Homo sapiens: one gene and its partners. The protein of the gene in region 2 purifies or fractionates together with the protein of the main gene of each other region. This does not show direct contact. Each region holds a gene or a part of one and is shown on either strand. Other genes may lie near its edges.

Region 1 (3,500 bases), on a different chromosome or scaffold from region 2:
TGAGGGAATGCGTATTTTGGGTTGCGTGAAAGAGGTGAATGAACTGGAACTGGTGATTAGTCTCCCCAATGGCCTCCAGGGCTTTGTGCAAGTCACTGAAATCTGTGATGCCTACACCAAAAAGCTGAATGAGCAGGTGACACAAGAACAACCTCTGAAGGTAAGGGAAATCCGAATGAAGCCTGTTATTGAAAATAAGTGGAACACAAATAGATTTAAAATTACAACTTTGCCAGGTGCTAAGAAGGGAAAGTACAAGGTCCCGTGAGAGTTTATCATAAAGGAATTTTTGACTAAGTCTGGGAGCCTGGAAGACTGTTGAGGAAGGGATGCTTAAGCTGAGATCTAAAGAATGAGGGTTCCCTAGATAAAGAAGGAAAGGCGTTCAGGCAGAAGCAATGTAATATATAACAGAGAGAAGGCTAGTATGGCTAGGTAAGGAGAGCAAGAGAGAGTGTGATGTGAGATGGGCAGGAGAGCCTGAATGGGGGCCAGGGCACATGCAGCCTTGTAGACCATTTTAAGGGTTGTTTTTAAATTCTAGAATCAATGGGAAGTCCTTGAAATGTTCTCACTGGGGTACAGCATAACGTGTAGATTGAAGAGGCATGAGAAGTTGCTTAGAGACAAGTTAGGAGGCTCTTGTAGTCGTTCACGTCCTGAGATTGATGGTGACCTGGGTTCAGGATTTCCTGAGGACTGAGGAGGCAAAGTCATTGCTTGGTGATAGATTCAATATGGGTGGTGGGGCAGATAGAGGTGTCAGGGCTGAGTTCTAGGTTTCTGTTTTGCATGATTTGATGCTTGGTCATGACATCCTGAGATAGGAAACCCTGAAGGGGACCTGGATTGGGAGAGATGATCATGATTTTTCAGTTTTTGAGACAGAGTCTCACTCTGTTGCCCAGGCTGGAGTGCAGTGGCATGATCTCAGCTCACTGAAACCTCCATCTCCTGGGTTCAAGTGATTCTCCTGCCTCAGCCTCCCCAGTAGCTGGGATTACAGGTGCCAGCCACCACACCCAGCTAATTTTTGTATTTTCGGTAGAGACAGGGCTTCACCATGTTGGCCAGGCTGGTCTCTAACTCCTGACCTCAAATGATCCACCCGCCTCGGCCTCCCAGAGTGTTGGGATTATAGGTGTGAGCCATCATGCCTGACCTATGATTTTTGTTTGTTTGTTTGTTTTTGAGATGGAGTCTCACTCTTTAGCCCAGGCTGGAGTGCAGTGACATGATCTCAGCTCACTGCAACCTCCAGCTCCCAGATTCAAGCAATTCTCCTGCCTCAGCCTCCTGAGTAGCTGGGATTACAGGCAGATGTCACCACACCCAGCTAATTTTTGTATTTTTAGTAGAGACAGGGTTTTACCATGTTGGCCAGGCTGGTCTCAAACTCCTGACGTCAGGTGATCTGCCCGCCTTGGCCTCCCTAAGTGCTGGGATTACAGGCATGAGCCACCACACCCGACCCTCAAGTGCTTTTTAATGGTCATGTAAGAGATAGACTGCAAAACTGACCACTGGATTTAACAATATGGAACTCATTGGTGATTCTATGGGAGATAGAGTGGTGGAGTGAGAGGGGTGGAAAGCAGATTGCAGTGAGCCGAAGAATGAGTAAGGGATGAAGTAGAGGCAGAAAGTGTAGACAACTCTTTTGACAAGTCATTTTACATGCCAGTTATGTGGAAATATTTGAAGGCCTTATGCTGAAATTCAAGACTGTGGCTAGGCCACAGACCCAACTTCCTTTGTGGATGGGGGGTTATTCCTCACCCACCTTTTGGGTTCTCTGGGGTCTGAGGATGAGAAGTCACTGAGCCAAAGCTGGGTAATGGATTTTTGGTTCAGGAGAAGGGTGTATATCAGGTCTTTCTCATTTGTGTTATGCAGGACCTACTTCACTTGCCTGAACTTTTCTCACCTGGAATGCTGGTAAGATGTGTGGTGAGCAGTCTGGGCATCACAGACAGGGGCAAGAAGAGTGTCAAGCTGTCTCTGAACCCCAAAAATGTCAACAGAGTGCTGAGTGCTGAGGCCCTGAAGCCTGGCATGGTAGGTGTCTAGGGTCGGGGAGGAAGAGTGGCAATGTGCCTTCTCTCTGCCTCTGAGGGAGCGTGGTCTAGGCCACCTTTTACTTTCAGCTCAATTGTGACACATAGGAGTGGTTCTTTTTCTGGAAGGAAGGTCTCTTGGGTTCTTTGGGCACTTAATGGACATTGAAGACTTGAACCTAATCATTACATTGGAGAAGAGAAAAGAGAAAGCAAGTCCAAATTTCTTTTTTTTTTTTGAGTCGGAGTTTCGCTGTTGTTGCCCAGGCTAGAAAGCAGTGGCATGATCTCGGCTCACCACAGCCTCCACCTCCTGGGTTTAAGCAATTCTTCTGCCTCAACCTCCTGAGGCAGGGATTACAGGTGCCATGCCCAGCTAATTTTTGTATTTTTAATAGAGACGGGATTTCACCATGTTGGCCAGGCTGGTCTCAAACTCTTGACCTCAAGTGATCTGCCTGCCTCAGCCTTCCAAAATGCTGGGATTACAGGCATGAGCCACTGTGCCCTGCCGAAAGTTTGCTATCTTTTGAAACCACTTGAGGCAAGAGACTCTTCTATATTGTTCCATCATTCAGCTGTGTTAAACATTCCTCATTGCCTGGCAACCATCAGCTCCTTCAAGCCTGGGAGTGTTGAATTTGATGTCTGCTGTCTAGTGGGATTGTGGCTTAAGGTTTAATGTGGGAGTGGGATAGTGGCAGAGTGTGAGCTTAGTGGCAGGAACATTCAAGTTTGGATGTTTTGTGTGTGTCCCATTACCTTTGAATTGGAACTTCTGGGACTACTTTCTCTTCCCCAGCTACTTACAGGTACCGTATCCAGCCTGGAAGACCATGGCTACCTAGTGGACATTGGTGTTGATGGGACCAGAGCTTTTCTGCCACTGCTGAAAGCCCAGGAGTACATCAGACAGAAGAACAAAGGTGAGGGCAAGAAAAGGGGCCAGTACATGGTGGTGAGGTGGTACATGTGGGGATTATATTTAAGTGCCATTTTGATGAGTAACATGACAGAATGGTGACCCTGAAGGTGCTGTGGCTTTGGTAAAACCAGCACTTAATCCTAGTTAATAGGAAAGGAAAGATGTATGAAGGGCCAGCGAGTGGTAAGGTCTCACTAAGATCTGATGGAACAGTGTCAGTTTTTCTAACCTGGAAGATTCCACTGCAATTAGGGCCCCCATGGCTTCTGAACCAGCAGTCTCCTGGCTTGTGTATTTTTGTGTGGTAATTGAATTCCAGATCAATTAGGATAACTTCGTTTCCTTCTTGTAGTTGGCCCCTTAAAGATTGGGAATTTGGGGAGTAACTGATGCTAACTGGGCAGGTAGGCCATGGGTCTTTTCAGGTATTACTTGGGCCCACGTTAAAAGTCCTTCTCATAGATACATTTTTCCTTTTGGGGCCTGGGTCTGGGCTTACAGGTGCTAAACTAAAGGTG
Region 2 (4,232 bases):
GTCACATGTAGAGTTGTTTTCTGTCTTCCATATTCTCCTCTGCTGTTCCATTGGACCACTAAATAGACTGTATCTTCAGGCAGAAATGATAAACATAAAAAAGTGGGCCCAAATTTTTAATAGAAAATTAAACCATCGTCTCAAGTTATAGATTGAAAAACTGCATCCTCTCATTTATTTAATATATATTATGCTGAGTCTGAGCTGCATCCTCAGCTTAATGAAACAGAAGGATAAATGAATAAAAAATTTCATCTCTGGCAATACGAGTTCTTCTTGTGTGCAAAGCAAATACAGCAAGACAGCACTAAAATTTCAGAGAACTTGAAATGCTGAAACTCCTATAATTCAATCATCTTTTCCTTGGCAATCACTTCTATTTCAGAATCATTTAAAAGGTAAGTCTGAAAAATACATTGTTTCAGATTTTATACCTTCTATTTTATGCTCATGAAGTAAAGTACTACAGAACTACTCACAGAGCCACTAAAGCAGCAATGTAGAATTTTCAGTTTTTTTTTTGTTGAAACTCACTTTATTTAAAAAAAAAAGTCATGAACAATAAATTACAATCATTTTCCCCTTTTATAAATTCTTCATAAAATATATTTGACAATTTTAACAGAAAATTTCAAAAGTTGCTTTCATTTCTTAAGTGCTGATGACTTATTTTTTGACCATTTTGTCATGCTGGTGAATTACTTTGTAGCTGCTACAATAGTTTGATTGATAACAATTTACAATTAAAAACAACAACAACGAAGAGAAAAAACAGACCAGCAGAAAGAACTATTCTGTGTGCTATTTATCTGACACTTAACACTTACTTCATCATAATGACAAAGTATCCCTTAGCACCAAAAAATCTACAGGAACCCCATCTTTCTAAGTGACAACTAGTGCAAAATAACATTCTAGGAACTAACTGTACAACCCCATATTTTCACTGGCCACAGCTGCCTATAAGCTCATTTGAAATATTTGGTCTTTTTTCAATTAAGACAAATTTCAAAAAACACCATAAATCATGGCAAAAGACTCTATGAGGAACAATTGCTTATTGAGTACCTATTATGGGCAAGGCACTGTGTACGAAGTTTTGCTTTCATTTTTCCTCTAGCAAATATCCAGGTATTTCCAAATATCACTAACCATCTTTTCTTACTCCTGGCTGAAAAGGCCTTTGGCTAAATGCCATTTTTTAATTGTCATTTTATCAACAAACCTTTAGTGCTGAGCACACAGTAGGTACTTAATAAATACCTCTGACTGAAAGAACAAAGACAAAGAATTTACTATCATTTTGCTTGGCTATTTTAGAATACAAGGACTTGATAAAATTCCAGAAGAAACTTCCTGATCACCTCATACCCTTACCCCCAATGAAAGAATTTCACTTCACAGGTAAAATCTTTCCAAGTAAATGATAATCATTAACTATTTTACATGAGGCAGGACCAAAAACTATGCGCTTAGGAAACTGTGGCTCCAAGCACATAGATATTTGAAGAGCAAATGATGCATGGGCATACCATCATCTATGAATCTCTGCTGAAGTGCCATGTTATTGACTAGACGTTATCATGATGCTTTTTCTTACTCCCTATAGCTCAACTTCCTTGGACATATCTGTTAAATTAAACTAATCTGGTGATCCAGAGGGTCAATTATCATGAGGTTCCAGTGTGTTTCCACCTCTAATTTCCAAAAGAATTCTTATATTTATTAGCTTAAAAGTGATGTTAAAAGTATATGATTTTTCATTTTAAGAGGCTTTATTTCAATAAAACCTTTTAGTCCAAATTTTAAACTTCCAGATCAAGTAACTAACATAGTCCAGAAATTTTATGTACTGCAATTTTTTTTGTGATGTTTTACATTCTATTTCCTCTGAACACATTTGAAACAGGGAAAAAAATTATGACATATTCCAAAAATTGTGGAAGTTCAAAAAAGCTGAGATTATGAAAGCTATCAATAATTTCAATATTCTAATACTATTTTGACTTTTGACCAAAAATTCTAGTGCTTTATAAAGATTAACTTAGATACAATGTAAAGTCTATTTAACCTTAAAGGCTAATGTTCTGTTTTAGGAAAGCATTCTATCCTTTAGATTTTAACTATCTGCATTTACAGGAAAACAAATTGTAGACAACCATACAAAGATAAAATCAAACTAACTTCAAGAGGAATAATGGTCTGTTGGTTTTTTGACATAGACTGTATCAGTGATTGTATAAAATGGATAGCTTTTCTACTTTAAAAGTAGTTGATGCCACAATATTTTATCCATTTGCCATACTGTGTATGTATCTTCTCCCACTTTAGATAAAGGTGATCACATTTTCAACAACCATATTATTACCAGTACTGTTTCAAATCAGACAAGAGAAAACAGCATCAGTGCCAAAATGAAAGGAACTCCAGTGACTCAACAAGTGATCATATCAGGGCAGGCAAAGTGAGGGTGGAGCTCATTTGGTTTCTTCAACTTCAGTATAATGAGGCTTAGACAAAGTCTTCAAACCAAAAATGTATCAAGTATTACAGTTCACACATAGCAAAGTTTTCAAACAGAATAATCCTGTATTCAGATTTATATCAGATTGTAGAAGCTCAAGTGCAGACGTCCCAATGCAGTGGTATAGTTGGTTAAATAAATGCTCGGTTACCTAAAGAAGGTCGGACTGAATCACCAACCTGCTGCCATATGACTGCATGACTAATTCAACTCTTGCAGCTATAGGGCACTGGAGAGTTCAAACATACTTCAGCAGCTTTGGATCACTTAATTTCATTTGTTTTACCAGATAATTTTAGACCCTCGAAAATGATGCCTTAAAAAAAAAGCTGTATATTACAAAAAAAAAAAAAAACAACTTAATATGATTTCATTAGGGGGAGGGGCAGAGTAGGAAGATAAGGGAAGGTTTATTTTTCGTCACTGACTTCACCAGCAAATCTCAAAAACCCAAACCTACATCAAATAATTTAAACAGACGTGGCATTTTTTTCATATGGAATGCAAAATGCGCACATTCACATACTTACATATACATAAATATATACATATATGTTTCCTTTACAAAGTTTCAAAGGTTGCATTACCAGCATGCAAACCTCTTTTCCCATGGAAATTCCTAATACTGACGAGGAATGTCTAAAATACTTAAAGACATATTTCCAGAAAACTGGACTCTCTTCTCTTGTTAGCTCTTAAAGAATTTTCCTGCCAAACTTCTATCAATAATCATTTTTTAAAAATTTACACCCACATTGGTAATACACATTTGAAACATACTAATAAAACGGCCAACTTGGATTTAAGAAAAATGAGGAAAAAAAAAATCCCACAAAAAATCTAAACCCTTAGAGGGTAGAGTCTAGCTTTTTATATTCTTTTTCAGCCACATAATGTTGCATCACTGTTAAACAGAAGCAGCATATCATCCATGGTATTTGCAAATAATATGTGTCACGTTTCCCAGCTGCTATCTTTAAATGCAATTTGTACTAATCTGAGTTCTAGTTCAAAAGCATCTGGACGATCCTGAGGGTTTGCAGCCAGCATTTCCTTAATCAGTTGTTTCATTCGCCCATTCATAGATTTTTTCTTCACAGGAATGAGAAGTTCCATTTTGGGATTTTCCAGAAGTGCCTCCCCAACAGGCACAATCTCAGTTCCTTGTTTTACATAACTCCCCAAGAGTTCCTTCTTTGTCTCTGTGTCTATGAATGTGATCCTTTCCAGCATTGCCCAGATGATAATCCCCAGAGCAAAGATGTCAGCTTTTGCTGTGTAATGTCCTTCCCAAACTTCAGGAGCCATGTAAAAATCTGTTCCACATGCTGTGGAAAGGAAACACTTGTTTACACTGACAGGTTCTTCTGGGTTCTGCCCAGAGGCTGAACAAACTTTACTTAGACCAAAATCAGCCACTTTGAGGGTAGGTTCCAAGTCACTGGTATCCAACCTGGTTTGAGAAATCAGGATGTTATCAGGCTTAAGATCTCGGTGGATGATCTGGTTTTTATGCAAGAAAGCCAGGGCACTGCTCAGCTGAAGCATGAAGCTGGTGTTAGTTTTACGATTGGGTTTCCTGGACAACAGATACTCATTCATATCTCCTCCGTCACAAAAATCCATCACAAACCACAAATAATAGGCGCTTCTGGGATCAAAGGCAATTTCTCCTTTTAATGAAGTTTCTACAAGCTACAAGAAGGAA
Region 3 (3,500 bases), about 220 Mb from region 2:
TTAGGGAAACATTTTGTGTCTTTATTTGAGGAACCTATCCATGCCCCTCAAATAAATTCTATGAGTACTTAGGATCTATTTTATCCTGTTCCGTCTGAATTACATGCAGAATGTTACTCTGTTACAATATCCAAGTAGCAGAATTATTAATTCAGAAGATAATTAAATTGATAGGTGTTGCAGGAATTAACCTAAACTTTGTATAGCTTTAAAGAAAAGAGATTTGTCTGAGTGTGGTGACTCACGCCTGTAATCCCAGCACTTTGGGAGGCTGAGGTGGGTGGATCACCTGAGGTCAGGAGTTCGAGACCAGCCTGGCCAACATGGTGAAACCCCATCTCTACTGAAAATACAAAAAAATAAAAAAAATTAGCCAGGCGTGGTGGCGGGAGCCTGTAATCCCAGCTACTTGGGAGGCTGAGGCAGGGAGGTGGAGGTCGCAGTGAGCCGAGATTGCGCCATTGCACTCCAGCAGCCTGGGCAACAAGAACGAAACTCCATCTCAAAAAAAAAATAGAAAAGAGATTTATTGTCCCCTATAATTTTATCTCAATAATGTTTTGCAGTAGTTTCTAAGGAAATTTTTATGGGGTCTTCAGTCTGACTGTGAAAAGCAGTTCAGAGTCCAACTCACACTGTGTTTTTCTTTCCTTTTCAGGGTGTGAGAGGAGTCCTGAGCAGGTATGTGTGCTTTCTGAATTGGTGAAGGGATTGGGAGAGGCAGAGGAGCTGGTGGAGAACCCTGCTGACTTCTGTGGTTTCTGTGCTCTTCCCAGAAGTAAGGCTGTCACAAGGCTGGAAGCAGAGAACATCCCCATGGAACTGAAGACAGCATGCTGCATCCCTGGGAGGAGGGAGCTCTTAAGGAAGTTCCAAGGTAGTTGCATCTTAGAGACTGGGAATTAGGCTGCCTGGGGTTTGAAGAAGTTCCAAGGTAGTTGCATCTTAGAGACTGGGAATGAGGCTGCCTGGGGTTTGCCTCGTATTGTGGTTTGTCACTATGCCAGTCAGCTGCAGTGACCAACAGAACCTAAAGTCTTAGTGGCCCAGATCAGCAGAAATTTATTTTGAGAGTGTGCTGTTGGTTTGTTCCTAGGTGTGGGGACTTCTGTGCCACATCTTCTCACTCTGGTACCCATACTGACAGAGCTCTACCTCCCTCTTGGTGCTGGGAGCCATAGAAAAGGGCAGGGTTATTGAAGAGATGGGGGAAGAAGTTCTCTTCCAGAGTCAATACAACACATCACTTCTGGTCACCAAAATGTGTGGGGATTTCTCTCCGCAAACAGCCAATCAGTTCTCCAGCAGATACTCCAGCCAGATGTCCTTCCATGCAATTTGATTTTGACACTATCTATCTGGAGATAGCACCAGGTTCCCCGGGTTGAGGGCTTTGTCCCACAAGACTGACCCCACTTCAGATGCTGGTCACAAGCACAGGTTGTGGTCTGTGATTCTGACCAACTGACTGTAAACTGGGGTTCCCACAACCCTCTTCTTGAGTTCACTTAATTTCCTGAAACAGCTGACAAAACTTAGGGACACATATTTACTCATTTATTATAAGGGCGTTACAGAGGCTAGAGATGAACAGATGGAAGAGATTCTTAGGGCGAGGTTTGTGAGAAGGGGTACGGAGCTTCCACGCCCTTTCTAGGCCTGCTACCTTTGGAACCTCCGTGTGTTCAGTGATCTGGAAGTCCTCAGGACTCAGTTCTTTTTTTTGTGTGTGTGATGAAGTCTTACTCTGTCGCCCAGGCTGGAGTGCAGTGGCGCCATCTCAGCTCACTGCAACCTCCACCTCCCATGTTCGAGCGATTCTCCTGCCTCAGCCTCCCGAGTAGCTGGGATTACAGGCACATGCCACCATGCCTGGCTAATTTTTATATTTTTAGTAGAGACGGGGTCTCACCATGTTAGCCAGGCTGGTCTCGAACTCCTGACCTCAAATGATCTGCCTGCCTCGGCCTCCTAAAGTGCTGAGATGACAGGCGTGAGCCACTGTGCCTGGCCAATGAACTCAGTTATTTTGGGTTTTTATGGAAGCACTATGTAGACGTGATTGATTAGATCATAGGCCATTGGTTTACCAACCCACCCTTAAGCCCCTCTCCCTCTTCAGAGGTGGGGGGGGGTGAGGCGTGAAGGACTGAAAGTTTCAAGCCTCTAATCACATGGTTGGTTCCCCTGGCAACCACACCCAGTGGGAGGCTTTCTGGGTAATCACCAACCACAATTCATCTTATTAGCTTACAAAAGACACTCTTGTATTTCTGGAAATTTCAAGGATTTTAAGAACTGTATGTCAGTAAACAGGATATAGACCAAATACACACTTCACAGTATCATAGGCATGGTGAATGTAGACCAAATATATACTTCCCAGTGTCATAGGTATGGTGCCTCCTGCACTGTAGACCAAATACGTACTTCACAGTATCATAGGCATGGTGACTCATGCACTCCTCTTAAAGGTACCCATGCTGAATTAGAGCATCTGGCCTTCCTGAGATTTCATGGCTAAGTCAAACTATCAAGGAGACAGTGTAGGGGGCAAGGGAAAACTTTCCCCTTTCCCTATGAATGTTTGCTGAAAATCAACTGACCAAAGACAAATAGGAACAAAGGCATAGAAAAAGTCTAACATTCATAGCACAGTGGAATCGCAGGAGAGTAATGACCCAATAACGCAGTGGGATACAGATGCTTATATACCTTTCTTTATTGGAGGAAAGGGAGATGGGGAGGTGTGGATGATTTTAGGGAGATAGTAAATGATTTTTTGGAGGATTCATTGGGCTTGGAGTGCATACAGTGGCTTGGGACAAAGTGTTGAAAAGTAGACAGTGGTTTGTGACTAAAGTCTGTCCAGGTGTATTGATAGACTTGTCTGTCTTCCTGCAATATGAGCTAAATTAATTAAAATGCAGGGACTTCAGGCAGATAAATGAGTGTTAGAATAAAGCTTCTTACAGTGTGTGATGGTCTCCAAGGGCCTTTAATTTAAAATAATGGGCATACCAGGGTGCCATATTTTAGGGTAAAATTCCCTGGTCTCCTTCCGTGGGAGAGTGCACCATGCCCAGAAAAATTAGGATTGGTATATTCATGAGCAGTATCAGAGTCACGGCCACCCATAGAGCCTGCACCACCATGCCCAGAAGAACGAGGATTAGTATATTCATGAGCAGTATCAGAGTCACGGCCACCCATAGAGCCTGCACCACCACGCCCAGAAGAACGAGGATTAGTATATTCATGAGCAGTATCAGAGTCACGGCCACCCATAGAGCCTGCACCACCACACCCAGAAGAACGAGGATTAGTATATTCATGAGCAGTATCAGAGTCACGGCCACCCATAGAGCCTGCACCACCACGCCCAGAAGAACGAGGATTAGTATATTCATGAGCAGTATCAGAGTCACGGCCACCCATAGAGCCTGCACCACCACGCCCAGAAGAACGAGGATTAGTATATTCATGAGCAGTATCAGAGT

Evidence for each region. Proteins that work in one complex are often made in the same cells at the same time.
Region 1: the proteins of PDIK1L (region 2) and PDCD11 purify together in Homo sapiens (affinity purification with mass spectrometry; one large-scale study listed by BioGRID and IntAct). This does not show direct contact.
Region 3: the proteins of PDIK1L (region 2) and TRIM58 purify together in Homo sapiens (co-immunoprecipitation; one large-scale study listed by IntAct). This does not show direct contact.

What each region holds. Positions count from the first base shown.
Region 1 is NC_000010.11:103,403,126-103,406,625, forward strand, and holds part of PDCD11 (protein RRP5 homolog), read left to right. Parts: coding exon 1-160; intron 161-1,896; coding exon 1,897-2,058; intron 2,059-2,859; coding exon 2,860-2,983; intron 2,984-3,483; coding exon 3,484-3,500. UniProt on the Homo sapiens protein: Essential for the generation of mature 18S rRNA, specifically necessary for cleavages at sites A0, 1 and 2 of the 47S precursor. Directly interacts with U3 snoRNA. Involved in the biogenesis of rRNA.
Region 2 is NC_000001.11:26,121,824-26,126,055, reverse strand, and holds the end of PDIK1L (serine/threonine-protein kinase PDIK1L), read right to left. Parts: intron 4,220-4,232; coding exon 3,479-4,219; 3' UTR 501-3,478; downstream 1-500.
Region 3 is NC_000001.11:247,867,187-247,870,686, forward strand, and holds part of TRIM58 (E3 ubiquitin-protein ligase TRIM58), read left to right. Parts: intron 1-658; coding exon 659-681; intron 682-776; coding exon 777-877; intron 878-3,500. UniProt on the Homo sapiens protein: E3 ubiquitin ligase induced during late erythropoiesis. Directly binds and ubiquitinates the intermediate chain of the microtubule motor dynein (DYNC1LI1/DYNC1LI2), stimulating the degradation of the dynein holoprotein complex.